2 separate regions of the Homo sapiens genome follow, and region 2 is linked to region 1. Evidence: fine-mapped expression QTL. Tissue or cell type: whole blood. Region 1 holds a variant in brackets; the other region holds the start of a gene. All regions are shown on one strand. Distances are from middle to middle.

Region 1 (10,963 bases):
AATTCATAGTACAGTCAGTCAGCACTGTCATGTAATTTTTCTTCAGTTGCATTCAGAAGCCTAATAGAGAAATGGAGGAGGTAGGTATTAGGGTTAATCCCAGGTTGGAATCCTGCAAAGTGGGCAGGTGAGAAGTATGAGGAGATAGCAAGGGAGTTGGGAGCATTGGCAAGAGTGATTAAAAGGATGATTCAGGGATCTAGGCTCAATAGAGAAGTGAAGCCAGAGGGGGCCTGATAAATTGAAAGACTGGACAAGTCAAGGAACTAGAGATCTTGATAAAGTGGAAGAATAAGGATAGTGAGATTAAAGACTGAGGTCGGGGTCTTAGAATTGAGGGCTTCAGAGGTATGCAAATTTAGGCTATGATCAGGTCTGGGGTGTGGCTCTGAAAATGGGCAGCTAAAATGAAGGGGAAACAGAGGTCCTAGAATTTAGGTGATCAGAGGGAAAAATAAGTAGCAGACCCAGCCAGCACTGGGATGGAGAAAATCATGGTCAGATTTATTTATTTATTCAACAAATATTTACCAAGTACCCACATCCCCGGAACTTTATTCTTTCTTTCTTTTTTTAAATACCATACAAGGATTCAGATTCCTTCTTGACCCTGGCTTACAAAGTATGGACAAGCCTTACAAATTGGCTGTGTATGGATTACTACTCTCTTCTTAGTGAATAGTAAGAGATAGCAGTATTAATGGCATGACACTGCAAGAGTCTGGGGAAGTTTTAAAGGTGCTTATTCTTTATGGGTGATTAGAAATCCATGTGTTTGGCCGGGTGTGGTGGCTCACACCTATAATCCCAACACTTTGGGAGGTTAAGGTGGGAGGATCACTTGAGCCCACACATCTCTACAAAAAAAGCTAAAAAATTAGCCAGGCCTGGTAGCATGCACCTGTAGTCCCAGCTTCTTGGGAGGCTGGGGCAGGAGGATTGTGTATAAACAGCTGCTTTATGAACATAGGAAGAATAAGGAACCCATAGTGATGACAGCATTCCGCATGGACACTGTGCTGTTTGTCTGGAACTAACCTTCCATCTGTGTTTTTGCCTCAGTAAAGAAGTGTGTCAGTGCTGCAGGAGACTCTGGTACTGACCACAGATGACCAACTTTTCTTATCTGTCCTAGGTTATCAAGGCTGCCTATAATCAAGTAAAAACAATAGCTCAAGGAAACCTTTCCAACACAGATGTCCAAGCTGCCAAGTAAGTCTCAGTATTAACTGTGTTTTATGTTTTTGTTATTTGAAAGTTGTATTCTTTTCAGATTATAACAATATTACAATCTATGCTCATAAGGACTGAGAAGTACAGAAAAGCGTAAAAAGGGAAACATACCCATATCCTACCACCTAAAGATATAATTGTTAACATTTTGGCCAGGCACAGTGGCTCACTAATCCCAGCACTTTGGGAGGCCAAGGCAGGTGGTTCATTTGAGACCAGGAGTTTGAGACCAGCTTGGGCAACATAGCAAGACCTCGTCTCCACCAAAATTAGAGAATAATTGTTAACATTTTTCTTAGTTTATTGATCATGCATTTTTAAACATAATTGTTAATATTGTATATATAGATGCTGCTTGACTTACACTGGGGTTACGTCCTGAGAAATGCGCATATCGAAAATGCATTTAATACCCTAATAACCCAGTCATCCAGCCAAACAAACATAAGTCAAACCATCATAAGTTAAGTTAGGGACCATCTGTATACTTTTTTATCTTATTTAAATAGCATCCTTATTATAGAAGTTTGAAAATTACAAATAAAAGACAAAAATGATCTCTGATTTCCCTAGCAATGATTCTGTTTCCATTGATTCAAATTACTAAAAATTTAAACAATATTCATTGGTGTGTCAAAATACACTTGTGCATTTTCTGCAGTTATAAAGATATCTTTGGGCTTAAAATATTTTTGTGTTTCGTATTACTTTCTTGGTGTAGATTCCCAACTAAGTTAAGAGTTATAAACATAACGAAAGACTCCATGTTAGAGTGTGTGTATGTGTGTATGTTTAAATAATACATTTGACTAGGCGCAGTTGCTCATACCTGTAATCCCAGGACTTTGGGAGGCTGGGGCAGGAGGATCACTTGAGGCCAGGAGTTCAACCAGCCTGGGTAATGTGGCAAGACACTGTCTTTACAAAAAGATATTTAAAACTAGCCAGGTGTGGTAGTGTGTGCCTGTAGCCTCAGCTACTCAGGAGGCTGAAGAGGGGGGATTGCTTGAGCCCACGAGTTTGAGGCTGCAGTGAACTAAGATCACGCCATTGCACACTAGCCTGGGCAACAGAGCAAGACCCTGTCTCTTAAAAAAAAAAAATGTATTTCTAAGTCACAAATCTAAAGAGATTGTACCAGTTTATAATCATACCACCAGTATATAAGAGTACCTATTCTACAATAGTTTCTTTCTTCATAACTAATTTATACCCAAAAAAGATCTGATTTTGTTTTGTTTTATAAGAAAGACTAAAATACTTGTCTGCTATTTGGCAATTTATAAATCCCCACTGTCCAGATTGAAAGTGCTATCAACACTCCTAATTCATTAGTAGTTCGAGGGTTTCTCTAAAAGAGACAGACTTGGGACAAAGTTGGAAATCAACCTGCATTTTCATACAGCCGCTTAAGACATTTAAGTTTGACTCCATCTACTTAGAACAATTCAAAATGTGAATCTTGCAACTCCAGTGGTCGTTATGATCATTTAGTATTGCCCACAGGGGAAGCAGAATTACAACCCAGGATGGAACAACCTTTTGGTCATTTCTGTTCCCATTAGTATTGTTAGTTTTGTTATGCTGAGCACACTACAAAGTTGCATCTCTTGTATAAGTACAACACAATTTATTAAATATTGTATACATAGAACCAAGAATCGATAGGATGCAGGGCTGCTTGATTGTACCAGAAACAAAACATGATGAGAATACATTGAAACACTGGATTTACTTAAGAAAAACCTAAGTTTTTCAAATCTAATTTATTTAAGAAAACGTATTTTCTTAATAAGTGTAACACAGTTCTTACAAGGTATGGTAATAAGCAGAAAGTAGAATTTTGAATATTAATGTCAAAGTATGTTTTCTGCCATTTTGATGGAGTTGATACTTTTTCTTGTAAGTTCTTCCTGTAGTGAAAGAGAGAAAGTGAGGTGTCATTGCCGAAAGGACACACTAATAACCTCTTGGTAGTTTATTGCAGGTAAAATCATTTTTTAATTAAGCTGACAACGTGGTAAAACTGCAGCATTAAATTGTAATTATGTTTAAATGGAAGTCTTTCTGTAGAGTGTTAAAGGATGATAAACGTTTGAGGTTCAAATAACTCGACTGTCTTATCAAACACCATGTCTATAAGTAATAAGTTTCTGGGAGAATTGTGAATTGGATTTTGTTTTATTTCAAGTGGATGCTTTTGTGCCCATATTTAAGCTGCCGTTGCTTACAAGACCTGTACTGCCCTTCCCCACCTGCCTTTTCCATCATACCCTATGCTCACAGACAAATCTCAGCAAGAGGCAGGAGTTGCTTCACTAATCAAAACCTTACATTAAAATAGTTTTACCTAGATCTAAGTTCTAGTCCCAAATCAAAAAGCAATCTGTGGAGTTTTCAGTATAATTTCGTACTGACAGCTTTCCAAATAGTAACGTAAACGGTTCACGTACTTGGTGAACTGAAGAAATAGAATGGAGGCCATTAGCACTGTAAGTTGTTAGTTTGCCTGTTTACCAAAAATATGTTGAGTTTCGGGGCACATACCTTAAAATTGCCCTGTTTCACTGTGTAAGAGGAACTGGCTTGACTACTTCACCCTTGGTGAAAACAAACAGGCCCTAAAAGAGGCAGCAACAGCTGAAGTGGATATCACAGAAATAAACAGACAGCAGAAGCTCTTCAGACACCCCCGAAACCTGCCAAAACTCACAGGTAATACAAGTGAAACGATAGCATAAGAAGAAAATAAACATGAGAATCTTCAAACTACAAGCATTGAACGGTATCCTCCATCCAAGAAGAGAACCCACTTCATACAAGGAAAAGGCAAAAGGAAAAGGTCAAGACTGTGACCTTTATAACACTGTGACCCCAGCTGTGGGCCAGGTGGAGTTGTCTGTGGTGACACCAAGTACAGGCCTGACACCCTGGTTTGACAGAAGGCTCTTCAAGATCCCTGGTCTTCACACTGTAGCAGCCAAAAGGTAGGTTTACAATATACACTGTCCCCAACTTGCCATGGATCAATTATAATTTTTCAACTTGACTATGGAGGAAAACCAT[C/T]GCAATTTCAGCTTCCAGTCATGGGTCACATAACGATGGGGATACATTCTGAGAAATGTGGTGTTAGGTGGTTTCATCACTGTGTGAACCTCAGTGTTCAGACAAATCTAGATGGTATAGCCTACTACACACATGGGCTCTATGGTATAGTCTATTGCTCTTAGGCTACAAACCTGTATAGCATGTACTATAGTACTGAATACTGTAGGCAGTTATAACACAAAGGTAAGTATTTGTGCATCTAAACATAGGAAAGGTACAGTAAAAATACAGCACAAAAGATAAAAAAATGGTATGCCATTTTTATGGCATAGCTCCTGCTTTCGAGTGAGTCAGTGAGTGAGTGGTGAGTAAATGGGAAGGGCTGGGACATTACTGTGCACTGCTGTAGATACTAAACACTGTAAACATAGGCTACGCTAAATTTATTTTTTTAAAATTGCACTACAACATTATGTTGTCAGTAAGTAATAGGAATCTTTCAGCTCCCTAATAATCTTAACGGGACCACCATCATATATGTGGTCCATCATTGACCAAAAACATCATTATGTAGTACATGACTATACCTTGAATTTCGATCTTTTCCTAGGCTAGTGATATGCAGTACATGAGATAATCAATGCTTCCTTACAAAATGGGCTTATGTTAGAAGACTTTTGCCCAGCTGCAGGCTATTGTAAGTGTTCTGAGCACATATGAGATAACCTGGGCCAAGCTATGATGTTCGATACGTTAGGTGTATTAAATGCACTTTTGACTGCCATCTCAGTGGATGACAGCCTTCTCACTGACAGCAGAGAGATCTTCCTCACTGTGCCAGTGGGCAGGAGAAAGAGCATGCTGCGACTGGCCAGTGACATGCAGAGGATCCAGATTGCACAACCGGATCCAGAGGCCTTGGGAAGCATTAGGGAGCTCTCCAGCTGTCTCACTCAAATCTGTAGCAGCATATGGACCCACAAATGGAGGCCAAAGTGGGCCCTCAATTGGACACTTTGGCAACCCTGAAGAGACTTCTTCCCTTCAGACTTACTGTTTTAGTATGTTCCAGAGAAGGGAGTGGCATTCTTCTTGGGGAATTCAGGAAGAGGGAGACACGCTGTTACTCTATCCATTAAATAAAGCTTTGATGTTCACAGCCCCCCGCCACCACTCAGAAAAAAAAAATAATTGCCTTGCTCTCTAAAACTGACTTCTGCCTTTTATTGGACAGGAACAAGCTGAAAGCTGGATACCTAATGTCAGTGGAGTCTTCTGAGTGTTTCCTGGAAGAAGTCGGGTCCCAGGCTCTAGTTGCTGGTTCTTACATGCCACCATCCACAGTCCTTCAGCAGATTGATTCAGTGGCTAATGCTGATATCATAAATGTAAGTAAATGAAAACTTAACGATTTAACAACAGAGAACTTAACCTTAATGATCCAATTTCAGAAGGATGCATAAGCGTCCTTGGGCAGTGTATTATTCTTATGTTTGGTGCTCATCTACTTAATGTGGAGGCAGGAGGGCTCATTCCCATAAGATCCGCAACAAGCTTCCCTGTCAGCTCGAGTATATGTATCTTCCTCCTTCAAATAAACTACCATTAGGTTAAACTGTGATGTCAGTAAGAGGGCTGCCATCCACTGAGATGGCAGTCAAAAGTGCATTTAATACACCTAACGTATCAAACGTTAGGTTAAACTAATGGTAGTTTATAAAATGGGCTTATGTTAGATGACTAGAAGTAAAGAAGAGTCAAATATTAGCAGTTTCATATGATCCAACCTAAATAGTGAAGTTTGCTATTTTTCCTCTTCAGTCCTAGCAATATTTCACCATCTAGCATCTTAAGATTTTCTTTACTCTTCTCAGCCTAGGACATTCTCTTGTTCTTGCTAATTTTTTTTTCACATATATTATTGTTCCCTACAATATTGAGCTGTTTTGAGGGCAAGGACTATGTCATGTACTTCTTTGTGTTCCCTGCTGTGCCTAACAAGCACATGACCTACAGAATTAATCCAAAGTAAGTGGGTTTTCCCCATTTTCTACATTAAACTTGCCAACTTGCTTTCTACTGTAGATGTCTCGGCCATCTTCTCACCAACAGGTCTACCTTGTATAGGGACAGTGGGGATAAGAAAAAATAAAAAACTAAGCTGGGTGCAGTGGCTCATTCCTGTAATCCCAGCACTTTGGAAGGCTGAGGTGGGCAGATTGCTTGAGCCCAGGAGTTCAATACCAGACTGGGCAATGTAGCAAAACCCCATCTCTACAAAAAAGTACAAAAATTAGCTAGGCTTGGTGGCATGCGCCTGTAGTCCCAGCTACTCAGGAGCTCATGGGGCTGAGGTGGGAAGGTGGCTTGAGCCTGGGAGGCAGAGGTTGCAGCGAGCCGAGATCATGCCACTGTACTCCAGGCTGGGCAACAGAGTGAGACCCTGTCTCAAATAAAAAAGAGACAAGGCTATTTTAAGATAGTAACCCTGACTTGATTTCACTTCGCCCCAATCGTCATTTCATACTCTTCTTTTTTTTTTTTTTGAGACGGAGTCTTGCTCTGTTGCCCAGGCTGGAGTGCAGTGGCGCGATCTCGGCTCAGTACAACCTCCGCCTCCCGGGTTCACGCCATTTTCCTGCCTCAGCCTTCCTAGTAACTGGGACTACAGGTGCCCACCACCACGGCCGGCTAATTTTTTGTATTTTTAGTAGAGACGGGGTTTTACCATGTTAGCCAGGATGGTCTCGATCTCCTGACCTCGTGATCCACCCGCCTCAGCCTTCCAAAGTGCTGGGATTACAGGTGTGAATCAACGCGCCCAGCCCATTTGGTACTCTTTTAAATGGCTGTCTTCATCTTATATCCTATCATTATGTGCGTCCCAACCCGACTGCTTCCACCACCACCTCTCCTTCATAGTAATAAGATAAGCTGGCCTGACAGAATATGGGGGCTGCTGCTCCACCTACACCTGACTCATGATACTACACTTAACCAGCCTTTGAACTTGGAAGTAGTGGCATAAAGAATCCTCTAGGGTATCAAGTTTTACTTTTAAGTTAACAATCAATGTATTTTTATTGACCCAGACTATTTGCCATTGTAATACCGAAACAGGAAAGTATATCCCTGCCTGAAGCCACACTACTCTATTTGACAGTGTCAGTGTTGTTTTCCTTATCTCTCTTTGAACAGCTACCCTCTTACCAGTGTTGCTCTTGCTTGGTTCATTACACATACAATGGGACTTTCAGAGAAACAGCTAAGCTTTTCCTCCCACACTGTCCCAAATTAAAGCACCAGCCATCTCCTAGTTAATTTTCACAACAGCTATTATAGTAATTGCTGGCTTAGAATGTCCTATCGAAGGCCAGGTTGGTGGCTCACGCCTGTAATCCCAGCACTTTGGGAGGTTAAGGTGAGTGGATCACTTGAGGCTAGGAGTTTGAGACCAGCCTGGCCAACATGGCGAAATCCCGTCTCTACTAAAAATACAAAAATTAGCTGGGCATAGTGATACATGCCTGTAATCCCAGCTCCTTGGGAGGGTGAGGCAGAGAATTGCTTGAACCTGGGAGGCGGAGGCTGCAGTGAGCCAAGATCGCAGCACTGCACTCCACACTGGGTGACAGAGCGAGACTCCACCTCAAAAAAAAAAAAAAAAAAAAGAATGTCCTATCCATAAATTCTTGAAATGACAAAATAAGTTCGCCTGCTTGATGATATATATTTTTATTTTTGTTAATTTTGTCTTTTGTTTGTTTCTTTAAAGGCGGCAAAGAAGTTTGTTTCTGGCCAGAAGTCAATGGCAGCAAGTGGAAATTTGGGACATACACCTTTTGTTGATGAGTTGTAATACTGATGCACACATTACAGGAGAGAGCTGAACGTTCTCTCAGCCCAGAGCAGCAAACACATGAAAGTCAGAAGTCTCTAATATATCATTTGTCTTTTTTCCAGTGAGGTAAAATAAGGCATAAATGCAGGTAATTATTCCCAGCTGACCTAAAGTCAATAAAACATTCTGTTTAAGTGTTTTTCTTACGTTTTTCTCAATGAGTTAATCAACAAGTATTTATTATGTGCTGATATCTTTGTTTTAGATGCTTTAAAGGAGACAGGAATATAATTATTGAGTATAGAAGCATCAGAAACTATTAAAATTAAGGCTAAGTGGCTATCGGGGTAAATAGTGCCAGATTACTATTGGTGGCGTTTAAGATGAAAGCAAGTTCAAAATTTGTCATTTTGGGTGTCAACAGCTAAATGGTCTGGTTTTTACCCCTGTTTTGCCTTTTTTGCAATAAAATTATTTCCAAAAAACATACATTTCCTATCAATCATATCCTATATTCCCATTCATTCATTTTTTTATGTCTGATTTATCTTCATTGACAGAGTTTTGTTTTTCTCTCATCTCCTGTCTCTCCCTTATCTGTTACTATCCTGTCTCTTCCAAATAATTAACTCTCAATTCAACATTTACAGTAAAAGAAGGGCTAAAAAGGGGAAAAAAAAAGAATTCTAATGTGAATAACTAGCCAAAGAATTATGTCTCTTAGTTATTTTAATTATAGTACTTGAAGTTTACCAAAAAAAAGAGAGAAACTAAATATTTAAAGAAAAATGTAGTGTTTACATAAAGTGACATTCTCTACTATGTTCAGACATTCTGATATTGGATTTCTCTACGGCATTTTCTAAAAGAAAGAAATTCTTCTCAAAAAGGAGGGTCTTATTCTGAAAATAAGATTTGTGAGGCCTGCAAGAACCCAAGGAAGTCTTTAGATAATCCTGTTGAAGAACATCTCTAAAGGCTTTATAACGCAGTCATAAGAGAAGAGAATTGGTGAGTCTACAGACAGTCCTTGATAAGTACAGCAAACTTGTGCCTGGTGAGGCACAAAACTTGGGTGTCTGCAAGATAAATGCTCATATGACCACAGATTTGCTAACCAACCTTTGATACCAGTTGGGCTTTACCCTCTTCAACTTGGGCACAATCTTCCAGCCAAAATGCATCTGAGGTAGAGGAGGTAGAGGAGGAAGAGCTTTCATTGTCTTGCTTCACCATTATCCAGTATGGAGAAGGGGCCCTCACTTCTTTCTTGTCGTCTCTGTGAATCATCACGTCACAATTAATGTCTTTTCCTACACTAATAGTATGGTTCTTCTTCTTATATCCATGCCAGTCTCTGGAGATGGATATTGGTCTCCTTGCAGGGTGATGCACAGTTGACCACGGATATCTATAATATTGAAGTCTTTTATCTAAATCTACATTTTCATTATCATCACTGCTTGTGAAAGATTCATCTTTTGCCAGCTCAATTTTCTTTGGTGTGCTGAAATGAAAAGAATAGTGAATAAAATAGATTCTTCATGTCTAAACATTTATGGTCCCCTAACAAGATGCCTTATAACTTGCTTTGACTCATAAAAGATACAATTTAGCTTTAGCATTACCTTTCTGTGTCATTGAAATGTTTCTCTTTTTTAAATCGTCTTGAAATCTTTTTCCATTTCTAAATGGAAATCAAATTCTGCCTTAAATTACTTCACCATACCTTAAAAAGTTTTGCACAGACTTATACTAGACTACTGACCAGAATATTAGGAGGTGTTAAAGGGTAGGTTAATTTCACTGCAGCTAAAGTGACGGATTCAACCTGGCCATCTCCTGAGAACTCTATTCTTGTGGCTCACGTGGCATTAACACAACATTACTGATTTCCAGAGGAGTCAGGAAGTCAGGAAATAGTGGGCCTTAAGGATCTTCAACATCCTAGTCATTAGTAAGTCTTAGAGTCTTTTTTTTAGAGAGGGTCTTGCTCTGTCACCCTTGCTGGAGTGCAGTGGTACAATCATAGCTCACTGCAACCTTGAATTCCTGGGCTCAAGTGACCCTCTGGCCTCTGCTTCCAAAGTAGTTGAGACTACAGGTGTGTATGCTGTATGCCACCGCACCTGGCTAATTTTTATTTATTTTTATTTATTTATTTATTTTTAAAACAGGATCTCCCTATGTTGCCCATGCCTGTCTCAAACTCCTGGCCTCAAGCAATCTTTACTTTGGCCTCCAAAGTGCTAGGATTACAGGCATGAGCCACTGTGCCCAGCCAGGTTTTTGTTGTTGTTGTTGTTGTTGTTTTTAACTTTCTCCAATTATTGACTTTCTTGATTGTTGAAACTAGGTGGTGCTTGCCTGCTAGCACCTCCAGGTCTCTGAACTTTCCTAATGCCTACAGTACCTGTGCTTGCTTTAACTTTCCAGAATGAATGCTCTGTCACCTGCTTTCCCTCATCCTGGTGCTATTGCCCAGCAGAACCAAAACTAGATCTTTGTGATTACAAATCTCTGGTACATTCTGCCCTGCTAAAAGGAAATAGGTTTCTTCCCTGCCAACCTGTTAAGACTTCTGGTGTTATCACTAATAACCTTGGCAGTCTGCCTGTTGTATTTGCTTCCAATAATTTGAATGGCTTTTCCAAAAGTTTATCTCTTCCAGTAATAAACAGTTGATAATGAGTAATTTTTACTGAGAGCCACTAGTCTTAAATACTGATTTTCTTTGTCTGATTTGCCTTCAGACACACCTAGGTCTTCCTGAACAGCACATGAATTTTTTTTTTAAATCCAAGTATTAGTAACTTTTTTTTTTCAGACTGCAGGGGGAAT
Region 2 (10,963 bases), 28 kb before region 1:
AGACCATGTCATAATCTAGTACTCCTCCAAAATGAGTAGGCTGTGGAATTTCATTTCTAACTTCTTTATCCCCAAGATCATTAAAACTGAATTATGGAGCCTACTATTCCAATGTCCTACAATAGATCTGACAGCTATAATTTTGTAGCCCTTTAGAAAAAAAATATCTTGGTAGGACTCTTAAAAGTATGGCCTGGAAGACTGCAGGTTTGCCATCTTATCCATGGTTGTCTAGTGGGATAGATGACTTGGGTCTTTACTTAATGCAATTCTTGTAATTAGGTTAAGGTCAAGAATTGGTTATTGTCCTGAATTTGATGTCTTGCTAGAATATATGACTGCTCAGGAAATAATGATCATGTATGCCAGATTATGGGGAGTCCCTAAGCCCCAGATTCAACTGTATGTGAAGAAATGGTTGAATTCACTTGAACTGGAGCCTCATGCTGATGAGCTTATCAACACCTACAGGTGAGTCATTATGCTGCTGCACTTTTTGTTGATGCTGCTAATGTTGAGGTGCTTTCTTTTGTCCCTGCTGTTTGAAATGAAGCCCATAGCTCCACCTATGCTCCTTTTCCCACAATTACCTAATTACGAAACTGTCTAATGTTCTACTAGGTTTCAGATACGAGTAGTAAGGCAGATCAATGTAGCTTCACGTCGTCCTTTTGCAGAAATGGAACAATAAATCTTAGGTTTTTTTGAACTGTAGCTTCTGAACCTCAAAAGGGATCAATTAAGAGGGAGTTTAGGATTGCTAAAGCAGCTAGAATTTGAAGAGCAGGGTGATGATAAAGACGAAGCGGGGGCCCAGAAATTTGAATGGGGTTTGCTGTGAGTCATGAGCTGGCCTGTGCCATGTGCAAAGGGAGAGATGCTGTGAGGCCTATCAGAGAATGGCACCTGCTAGACTGAGAACTGAATGTGTTACCGGTGGACGATATCTGAGTTACTGGCGGTGAATCTGTGTACATCTGCAGCTACCTCAATTCTTGCCTCCTCAGAAGAAAGAAATCAACAGAGGGGCATAAGGCAGAAAAAGAGACCAAGGCAAGTTTCAGAGCAGGAGTGGAAGTTTATTTAAAAGGCTTTAGAACAGGATAAAAAAGGAAAGGAAAGTATGCTTGGAAGAGACCCAACCAGGCACTGAGGTCAAGCGCTCTGTTTAACAGTAATCTTTATAGGCTGGCCCCTTTCTCATGATTCTTCCCTTAGGGTGGGCTGCCCGCATGCCTGGTACCCCCCTCACCCGTTGGAGGTGAGCATGCGCAGCGTGTTTAAGAAGTTGTACCCATGCCCATCTGAGACTTTCTTCCCTATTCTGGTGGAGTAACCCTGGAAAGTCATACTCCGCCATTTTGTCTCTTAATGCACATGCCCAGGAAGTTGCTTCTCCCTGGTGTCTGCATTCAATTAACACTGTTAATTTAGTGCAACGGGTGTGGACTATCAGGAAATGGCCTCTCCAATTTATCTTTTTTTTTTTTTTTTTGAGGCAGAATTTCGCTCTTGTTGCCCAGGCTGGAGTGCAGTGGCGCGATCTCGGCTCACCCAAACCTCCGCCTCCTGGGTTCAAGTGATTCTCCTGCCTTAGCCTCCCGAGTAGCTGGGATTACAGGCACCCGCCACCATCCCTGGCTAATTTTGTATCTTTAGTAGAGATGGGGTTTCTCCATGTTGTTCAGGCTGGTCTCAAACTCCCGACCTCAGGTGATCCGCCCGCCTTGGCCTCCCAAAGTGTTGGGATTGCAGGTCTGAGCCACCGCGCCTGGCCCAATTTATCACTTAGAGAGGCAATGTGATAACTGCCAAATCATCACCCGACATTCCTGGTGGATGGGGGGAGAGCCCTCTCCTGTCCCGCTCATACCTGTCTAACTACCTGTAACAAAGGTAGACCCAGAGTTTACATAGTGCAGAAAATGTCGGAATTCTTACTGAGAGCCACAGTAGAGATACCTTACTGAGCACCCCTTACAGTTATAACTCCAGAAAAGCCATGCCTTAGAAGTAAAGATCATGTCCTAGAATAAGATCAAAAACCTAAATAGACCCACCCTAATAAAGAATAAAATAAAAGCCTGACAGAATCAAAGGGAGCACGCAAAATATACGAAAGCTGGGAAAAGACGTTTACTTCTGTGAACCAAAAGTATCTGAGACAGGTCTCAATCAATGTGGAAAGTTTCCATTGCCAAGGTTAAGGATAAGCGCCTGAGAGGTATGTCTATGCCTTTCTCCAAAGATGATTTCAAGGGCTTCAATATTTAAGGAGAAAGGATTGATATGGGTGAAAAGGAAGAAAATTTGAAATCTTAATTCCAGCTCTTTGGGAGGCCAGTCCAGTGGACTGCCTGAGGTCAGGAGTTTGAGACCAGCCTGAGCAACATGGCAAAACCCCATCTCTATCAAAAATACAAAAATTAGCCAGATGTGGTGGCATATGCCTGTGGTCCCAGCTACTCAGGAGACTGAAGTGGGAGGACTACTTGAGCCCAGGAAGTACTGGAAGCACTCAAGCGTGAGTGACAGATCAAGACCGTCTCAAAAAAAAAAAAAAAAAAAGAAAAAATTTAAAAATGTGTGGGTATACAAGAGACAAAGGGTTGCATCCCCTTGAGTCTTTGATCAGCCTTTCACTGAATATACAATTTACATGTGAGAGGATGGGCAGAGGAATACTCACTTATGTCATTGTCTGGCTCAGAGAATCTTCATTTTTTTTACATAATACAATGTAAACAATAGGGCAGAGGAAGCCATCAGATACACATTTGTTTAAGATGGACTTTGAGTTCTGTCCTTTGTCCTGCACCTGTGAAAATAAGCTATCAGGCCTGGTGCGGTGGCTCACACCTGTAATCCCAGCACTTTGGGAGGCCGAGGTGGGTGCATCACCTGAGGTCAGGAGTTCGAGACCAGCCTGGCCAACATAGTGAAACCCTGTCTCTACTAAAAATGCAAAATTAGCCAGGCATCATGGCACATGCCTGTAATCTCAGCTACTCAGGAGGCTGAGGTGGGAAAATCTGCTTGAAACCAGGAGGTGGAGGTTGTAGTGAGCTCAGATCATGCCATTCCACTCCAGCCTGGGCAACAAGAGTGAAACTCTCCAAAAAAAAAAAAAAAAAAAAAAAAAAGAGGGAGGAGGGAGGGAGGAAGGGAGGGAGAGAGAGAAACAGAGAAAGAGAGACAGAGAGAGAGAGAGAAAGGAAAGGAAGAAAAGGAAAGGAAGGAAGGAAGACAGCTATCAATTTACATTGCCAGGGTGAAATTCAACAAAACTGTTTTAGGGTAAAGATCCTCAGATCCACATGGAATTGCCCTGTGGGCAAATTGTAAGGTAAGTTATGTAGCTTTTTATCCTTATAGCTATCTTATTTAGGAATAAAACGGGAGGCAGGTTTGTCTGACATCATTCCCAGCTTGAATTTTCCCTTTGGCTTAGTGATTTGGAGGCCCTGAGATTTTTTTTCCTTTCACACTTCCTAACTCATTTTATCTATGACAGAAAAATGCATGAATGGGGGGAATGAAAGTGAAAGTTAAAGCCAGTATCACTCTGGAACATAAATGCACAAATCCTAAACAAATAAGTAGCAAATTAGGTCTAGCAATATATTAAAAGAATAAAACATCCAGACCAAGTTGGGTTTATAACAGGAATGAAAGGTTTATTTATAATTTGAATCAATCAATATAACTTAACACAGAATAAGACCAATCTGTTCACCTCAATACATGGAAAAAGTATATGTGACCAAAAACAATAATTATAGAATATTAGAAATTGATATGAACTTTTTTTTCCCCCCCGAGACAGAGTCTCGCTGTGTCGCCTAGGCTGGAGTACAATGGCAGTGATCTCGGCTCACTGCAACTTCCGCCTCCCAGGTTCAAGCAATTCTCCCTGCCTCAGCCTCCCGAGTATCTAAGATTTCAGTCAACTGCCACCATGCCCGGCTAATTTTTGTATTTTTTTTTCAGTAGAGACAGGGTTTTGCCACGTTGGCCAGGCTGGTCTTGAACTCCTGACCTCAGGTGATCCACCCACCTTGGCCTCCCATAGTGCTGGGATTACAGGCATGAGCCACTGTGCCTGGCCCAGGGAATATTTCATCAGAGATAATACCTGACAGGGTAGGATTCTGAAAGGAATGGGGAAGGAAATGCCAACATCGAAATTATGCATTGGGGAAGCCATGATTAATGCCTCTGGCCCTAAGATGGCAAGGTAATGTTGTTCCCAAGTATAAACCCACATCACCTTCCTCTGGTGTGTTTTACTCCTACTGTTGCCTGCTTTCTCTTTACATTCTCCCACCCCATACTCACCGCGAGCGCTCAGGCTAGGTAGTTAGGCTCCATAGAGTCAAATTGGACCCCACATTAACGAAACTAACAATTCGAGCTTTCCAGCAATGAACTCATCTGCTCTTCCATGTCTACTCTTTTCCTGTCTGCTGGTTTCCTCTCCCAGGGCTTTCAGTGTGTTCTACGCAGAAACCAGTTCAAGGACTGGGTTTTCTTCTGCAATAAAATGCTGGAGTTGTGGCAGAGACCTCCACAGTGAGAACAGCCACGGAGTTGGCTAGGAGGTGACATGATGTGGAAGTGGTGGATGTGTCCACAAGATGGCACTCCTAATTTGTAGCTTAATGCTTAATAGGACATTTTGCAATTGACAAACTTGGGATTTTATGATTTATGTAGCTGATATCATGAATTATGTTTCAAATCCTGCCACATTTTGAACAGAATTTATTTTTGCCCCTTTCTGATATTGGGTCATAACCTAAGAATGAGAGGACATTATAAGCAGGTGTGGGTGTGTGTGTGTGTGTGTGTGTGTGTGCACTTGAGTGTGGAGACTTTTGTGTTCCTCCTACCTGACCTGAACTGTTGAATGATGAAGTTACAATGATTGGACTCAGGGGTGCAGCTAGCTAACTTGGGAATTGGGGTTTTGAAGTACTGGAGACAGCTTTGTATGCCATGTTAATGAATTTGAATTTTATCCTGAAAAACGTGGCTGTCGTTGAAGAATTTTAAGCAGGCAGGTGGCTTGATCAGAGCACTGCTTCCCAGATTTCACTCAATGGTACCTGTATAACACATTCATGATTTTTGCTGTATCTCCGTATCATCAAGTTACTTAACGTTTTTACACCAACTTTTATTATTTTATAAATGTACTTAAAGAGGAAATTCACTACTAGCATTGCTTGCCATAATCAAAATAAATATATTATTAAAATGGAACAGTGCTAAATAAGGTGTACACATGGACATAGAGTGTGGAATGACAGACAATGGAGACTCCGAAAGGTGGAGGGGTGGGAGAGAGGTGAACGATGAGAAAGTACTTAATGGGTACCATGTACATTATTCGGGTGATGGGTACACTAAAAGCCCAGACTTCACCATTACTGCAATATATCCATATAACATAACTGTACTTGCGCCCCTTAAATTTATACAAATTTTTAAAAGGAAAAAATGGAAGTGTTCATCTATGTACCAACTTAAAATCATCTCACGCACCACTAGTGTTAAATCTACCACATGTGGGGAAACTGTGTGGTATGAATTGGGTTGAGGGCGTCCCCAGCAGGCACAGAAATTGGGTTGGTGCCAGGTTCTTAATGCCCAGATCTTAATTAGAGAGCCCAAGTCCGTTGTAGGCCTGGAGCAATTCAGACACAAGGCAAAAAGAAAGTACATTTGCCTATGCCTTGTAACGTCTACACCACCAGCCTTTCTGAAACTATTGTGCATACGAAGTCATCCCAGGATCTTGTAAAAACACCGATTCGGATCCAATATGGGACCTGGAGTTCATACATTTCTAATCAACTCCTAAATGATATTGATGCTGATACTGTCGGTTTCCCAACCAAGCAACGTAGCAAGGTACGAAACTCTAAAGTCCCTAAAGGGCAGGGACCACGCCTCTCGCGTTGGCATAGTGCCTAGCTCAAGGCACTTTCTGGGTTAACACTCGCTGAGGACCGGAGTGAACGCCCCCGCCCCAAGTCGTCACGTGACTGACTTTCTCCAACTGCCGGTTTCGGCTCACATAACACACCTACTATCCAAAACATTTCTATTTTCCTAACACAAAAACTATAGCTAAGTTTTTATATTCTATGTAGCCCCAGCCTAGGACGTAAATTCCACGAGACCAAAAGCCTTGTGATGATTCCCCGAGGTTGCTGACCCTCCCGGTGTGTCCCGGGCCTGCTCTGGGGGACACAGCGGCGAATACGTTGAACGAGGCCCCTGTTTCACGGAGCTAAAGATCCAGTAAGGACTTCACCCAGCGAGAGGCAACTACGCCGGGCTTCGATACCCAATACCTCTGCAGAAAGGTGGAGTGGCAGGAATCTCCTGAAGCCTCCAACGTCCAGGAACGCGGAAACCCAGGGCCTCCAGTGCAGGTGTCATCCCGGAGGGCGCATGCGGAGTCCCAAGAGAGGCGCGTCCCATTGGACAATGCTGAGCGGAAGAGCCCAAGATAGCGGGGGGAGTTGTGACAGGCTGCTGCAGACGTACTTAGAAAAGGGGTGCATACTGGATATTCAGGCTAGGAGAAGAACGCAAAAAGCAGTGACGTACATTATTCTCTGCATATATTTACTTGGGAAATTGTGCGTCTCCCTATTCTGAGTCTTGGAGGAATTGGACTGGTCCAACCTTATAAAGAGAGCAGTAGAGCGCGGCAGTATAGAGAGTACCTCACGAAGGGGACGTGGGAAAGTGTTAGCGGGGAACGCTGGGAAACTCCCGGCCTCCGCCACCATCTTGCTTTCCTTTAATCCGGCAGTGACCGTGTGTCAGAACAATCTTGAATCATGAAGCTACTAACCAGAGCCGGCTCTTTCTCGGTGAGCTCAGGTGGCGGGTTTGGGAAAGGGCTGGGGAGCAGTGTGTCGACAAGGTGATACGAGGCGGAGGTGTCTGGTCTGGGGTCTGGGCCTTGGGATTCGGTCTGCCCTTCAGCTGAACCCTGCGGGCCAAGTGGGCTGCAGACTGGGTCAGGCTTTGGAGGCCCAGCTCATGCTGTGAGCACAAGAGACCTAACACCGGGAAACCTGAAGAGAGGGGCAGGACGTGAGAGCGGAGTTGAAGCGAGTCCTTGGAGAGACTTCTGAAGGTCACTCCGGTACTCAAGTGCTGGAGAAAGAGACCGTGAAACCCAGGGGGAGCGGGAGGACGGCGCACTTAGCCCCCCACCTTCACTTTATCCGCTGCAGCCTCTGCTCCTTGGTTTATCACGGAGCGTCAGTTTCCCCAGCGAATAAAAGTATAAGAAAGGAGCTAATGCAGATAGAACACTTATTACAGTACCTGGAACTTCATTGTTAAATACTATGGTGTCTTAGTAGTCTAACGTTGCTTTTCTTGATCGTATGTTAGACGGTTCCTCCAAGACGTCTCTGTTTGTCCTCAAAAGCTCCTTAATTAAGTTTCCCCTTCAAGCCTAAATTAAACATAGCTGTCACTTGGGGAAAACTCACACATCAGGGTTATATCACTGTGGGACAGTGGTTATTAAGAGGGGTAAGGGGGAACACTTAAAAAATCATAGCGAGGGACAGAATGCCCCCAGGGAACCGGTGGCGATGTTTGGAGACATATTTAGTTGCAACAACTTGTAAGGAGGGTGCTATTGGCATGGAGAGGCCAGGGATGCTGCTAAACTTCGCCTTACAGCAAAGAATTATCTAGCCCCAAGTGCCAGTAGTAGTACCTGTGTTGAGAAACCCCCCTAGATGGAGATGCAGAAGACCAGACCTGGGCATGGAATGTTCTTATGCTTTATGTTTACATAAATGTGCTGTGGGCTATATCGATTTAGGCTGTAATTGCATTAACCTTCCAGGTATACCTAGACACACCAGTGATTACCCTTGGAGGGAAGCACGGTTAGATTGGCAAAAGACCCCAACATTTCCTTCTCCATTCTATTTTGCAACAGAAAAAGCTCAGAGAAAACAGTTGGAGAGGCCCAAAGTAAACAAATTGCAGTAAACTTGAAAGCAATTATTTATGTGTCTAATTTTAGCACTTTATATAGGAGAATAAACTTAGATATATCTTGTTATTAGAACAAAATAATTTAGAAGATTGCATGACAGTTACTAGGATAATTTGCTGATTTGAATGGGACGATTAAGAAGCACATTACCGGCGGAGCGCGATGGCTCACACCTGTAATCCTAGCACTTTGGGAGTCAGAGGCAGGCGGATCACTTGAGATGAGGAGTTCGAAACCAGTCTGGCCATCATGGTGAAACCCCGTCTCTACTAAAAATACAAAAAAAAAAAAAATAGCCGGGCGTGGTGGTGGTGGGCGCCTCTAATCCCAGCTACTCAGGAGGCTGAGGCAGGAGAATCTCTTGAACCCAGGAGGCGGAGGTTGCAGTGAGCCGAGATCGCACCGCTGCACTCCAGCCTAGACGACAGAGCGAGACTCCGTCTCAAAAAAAAAAAAAAAAAAAAATTACCAACAAAGAGTTACTATTTGGGCACATTTGGTTGGAAAACACCTAAAATCTCACTTGGTAACGGAATTATAGATTATTCATATTTGAATTGCTATGCCCATATATCTTAAAAGTTTACTTTTTGGAAAATTATAGGCCAAAATTACAAAGAAGGTTAACTATACCATACCCAGCAAACTAAATTGATGACGATAAAGTAAAGCTAATTGTAATTCATAACTGAAAAGCAGTACTAAAAGCAAGTGATAACCAGCAGCCAACCTAGTACAGCACTAATGATGTACAACAAACAGCCTTCTGGACAGCACAGAGTGGAGGCATTGCAGACTGTGCAGGGATGTCCGGGAAACTCCAGTGAGGAGGTGTTCATTGGGTCTTGGGAGCACCAAATTTTATTCACTCATCATCTCCTCTAATAACCTCATGAACTTTAGTCATAATCAGAATGATTTGTATGGCATTGTATAACATTTGCCAAAACAAACTGAATAAAATGAATGCATTTTGGGTCCATTATCTAATATTTAATGGGACCCTTTCACCCTACCAGTAACTGCATTTTATATATTGAGAATCTGATGTGGATGAAGCCATTATTAATCTCAGGATGACATACATGTCATAAATGTTTTATTTAGTCAAAAAAACTAAGACCTTTGGTTGTGTGGTCTTAATACAGCACACAAGAGTGAAGATACAATGGAAAATATTGAGGGCTTGGAGGAAGTTGGTATATACTTTGTCTTTTTCTTTTTTTTTTCTTGAGACGGAGTTTTGCTCTTGTTGCCCAGGCTAGACTGCAATGGCACAATCTCGGCTCACTGCAACCTCCGCCTCCCGGATTCAAGTGATTCTCCTGCCTCAGCCTCCCCAGTAGCTGGGATTACAGGCATGCATCACCACGCCCCGCTTATTTTGTGTTTTTATTAGAGATGGGGTTTCTCCATGTTTGTCAGGCTAGTCTCGAGCTCCTGACCTCAGGTGATCCGCCCACCTTGGCCTCCCAAAGTGCTGGGATTACAGGCGTGAGCCACCGCACCCGGCTAGTTTGTCTTTTTTAAAGGTTACTAAGATGATTAAGGAGATGAAACCATTTCAATTGGAAATTAGACTGAACGGATGACATTCATTGGGCAGATAAAAGAAGCAAGAAGCTGAAACCTATAAAAGGTTGTGGACACAGGCCAGGTGTGGTGGCTCCCACCTGTAATTCTAGCACTTTGTGAGGCCGAGGCGGGTGGATTGCCTGAGCTCAGGAGTTTGAGACCAGCCTGAGCTATGGGGTGAAACGCCATCTCTACTAAAATACAAAAAATTAGCCAGGCGTGGCAGCATGTACCTGTAATCCCAGCTACTTGGGAGGCTGAGACAGGAGAATCGCTTGAATCCAGGAGGCAGACATTGCAATGACCCGAGATCGCACTGTTGCACTCCAGCGTGGGACACAGAGCACGACTCCAACTCAACAAAAAAGGTTGTGGATGGGGTGATCTGACACTTTTTCAAAAAATGCCAAAGCTTTAGAACTACACAGAACCATGAAACTTTTATAAGGTAACTGAAAGATAAGAAAATACAGTGATTCTTTACATCATTTAAAAAATAAGCATCAAGAACTCTATAAATCACTAATAAATAGAGGTTTAAGAATGGCTTGGGTAAACTGGTGGGTTAGTAAGTCCATAATAAGTTATGCAGCTAGGCGGGGTGCAGTGGCTCACGCCTGTAATTCCAACACTTTGGGAGACCAAGGTGGGCAGATCACTTAAGATCAGGAGTTCAAGACCAGCTTGGCCAACACAGTGAAACCCCATCTCTACTAAAAAATACAAAACAAAAACTAGCTGGACATGGTGGCACGCACCTGTAATTCCAGCTATTTGGGAGGCTAAGGCAGGAGAATGGCTTGAACCCAGGAGGTAGAGGTTGCAGTGAGCTGAGATTGCGCCACTGCACTCCAGCCTGAGCGACAGAGAGACACTCTGTCTCAAAAAAAAAAAAAAAATGTTATGCAGGTAAATCCTCCCATGGAGGTGGTTATTGCTCCTTCCACCCCCGAACACCCTCTGTCGCTTGGGTACCCTAAGATACCATGCTTTTATATAAAGCACTGTTCTTGTGAGAAATACGTGTAACCTGTGTTTTTTATGTTTAGAGATTTTATTCCCTCAAAGTTGCCCCCAAAGTTAAAGCCACAGCTGCGCCTGCAGGAGCACCGCCACAACCTCAGGACCTTGAGGTTAGTCCCACTAACTTGCTCGCTGGAAGCTATACATGCCTTACTCTCCTTGGTAATACGAAGACATTCATTATATCTCTACTTTATTTTAAATACAGTTTACCAAGTTACCAAATGGCTTGGTGATTGCTTCTTTGGAAAACTATTCTCCTGTATCAAGAATTGGTTTGTTCATTAAAGCAGGCAGTAGATATGAGGACTTCAGCAATTT

What was found. PIP is the estimated chance that this variant, and not a neighbour inherited with it, causes the effect.
Region 2: UQCRC2 starts here. The variant in region 1 is fine-mapped to the expression of UQCRC2 in whole blood (TOPMed, PIP above 0.99).

Annotation. Positions count from the first base shown.
Region 1 is chr16:21,975,032-21,985,994 of GRCh38, forward strand. It overlaps UQCRC2 (ubiquinol-cytochrome c reductase core protein 2), which reads left to right. Exons shown (of 14, transcript NM_003366.4): 12 at 1,136-1,212; 13 at 5,516-5,669; 14 at 8,057-8,629. The coding sequence ends at 8,140. PDZD9 (PDZ domain containing 9) reads right to left here. Exons shown (of 4, transcript NM_001363519.1): 4 at 8,834-9,629. The coding sequence ends at 9,236. It also overlaps the pseudogene LOC100420644. Among named protein-coding and RNA genes, the nearest start is that of PDZD9, 21 kb to the right of the region's middle. The variant C/T (reference allele first, on the strand shown) is at 4,300.
Region 2 is chr16:21,946,567-21,957,529 of GRCh38, forward strand. UQCRC2 (ubiquinol-cytochrome c reductase core protein 2) reads left to right here and starts at 6,795. Exons shown (of 14, transcript NM_003366.4): 1 at 6,795-6,890; 2 at 10,669-10,752; 3 at 10,851-10,963. The coding sequence starts at 6,858. RefSeq lists enhancers at 6,128-6,587, 6,676-7,393, 6,908-7,077, 7,088-7,137.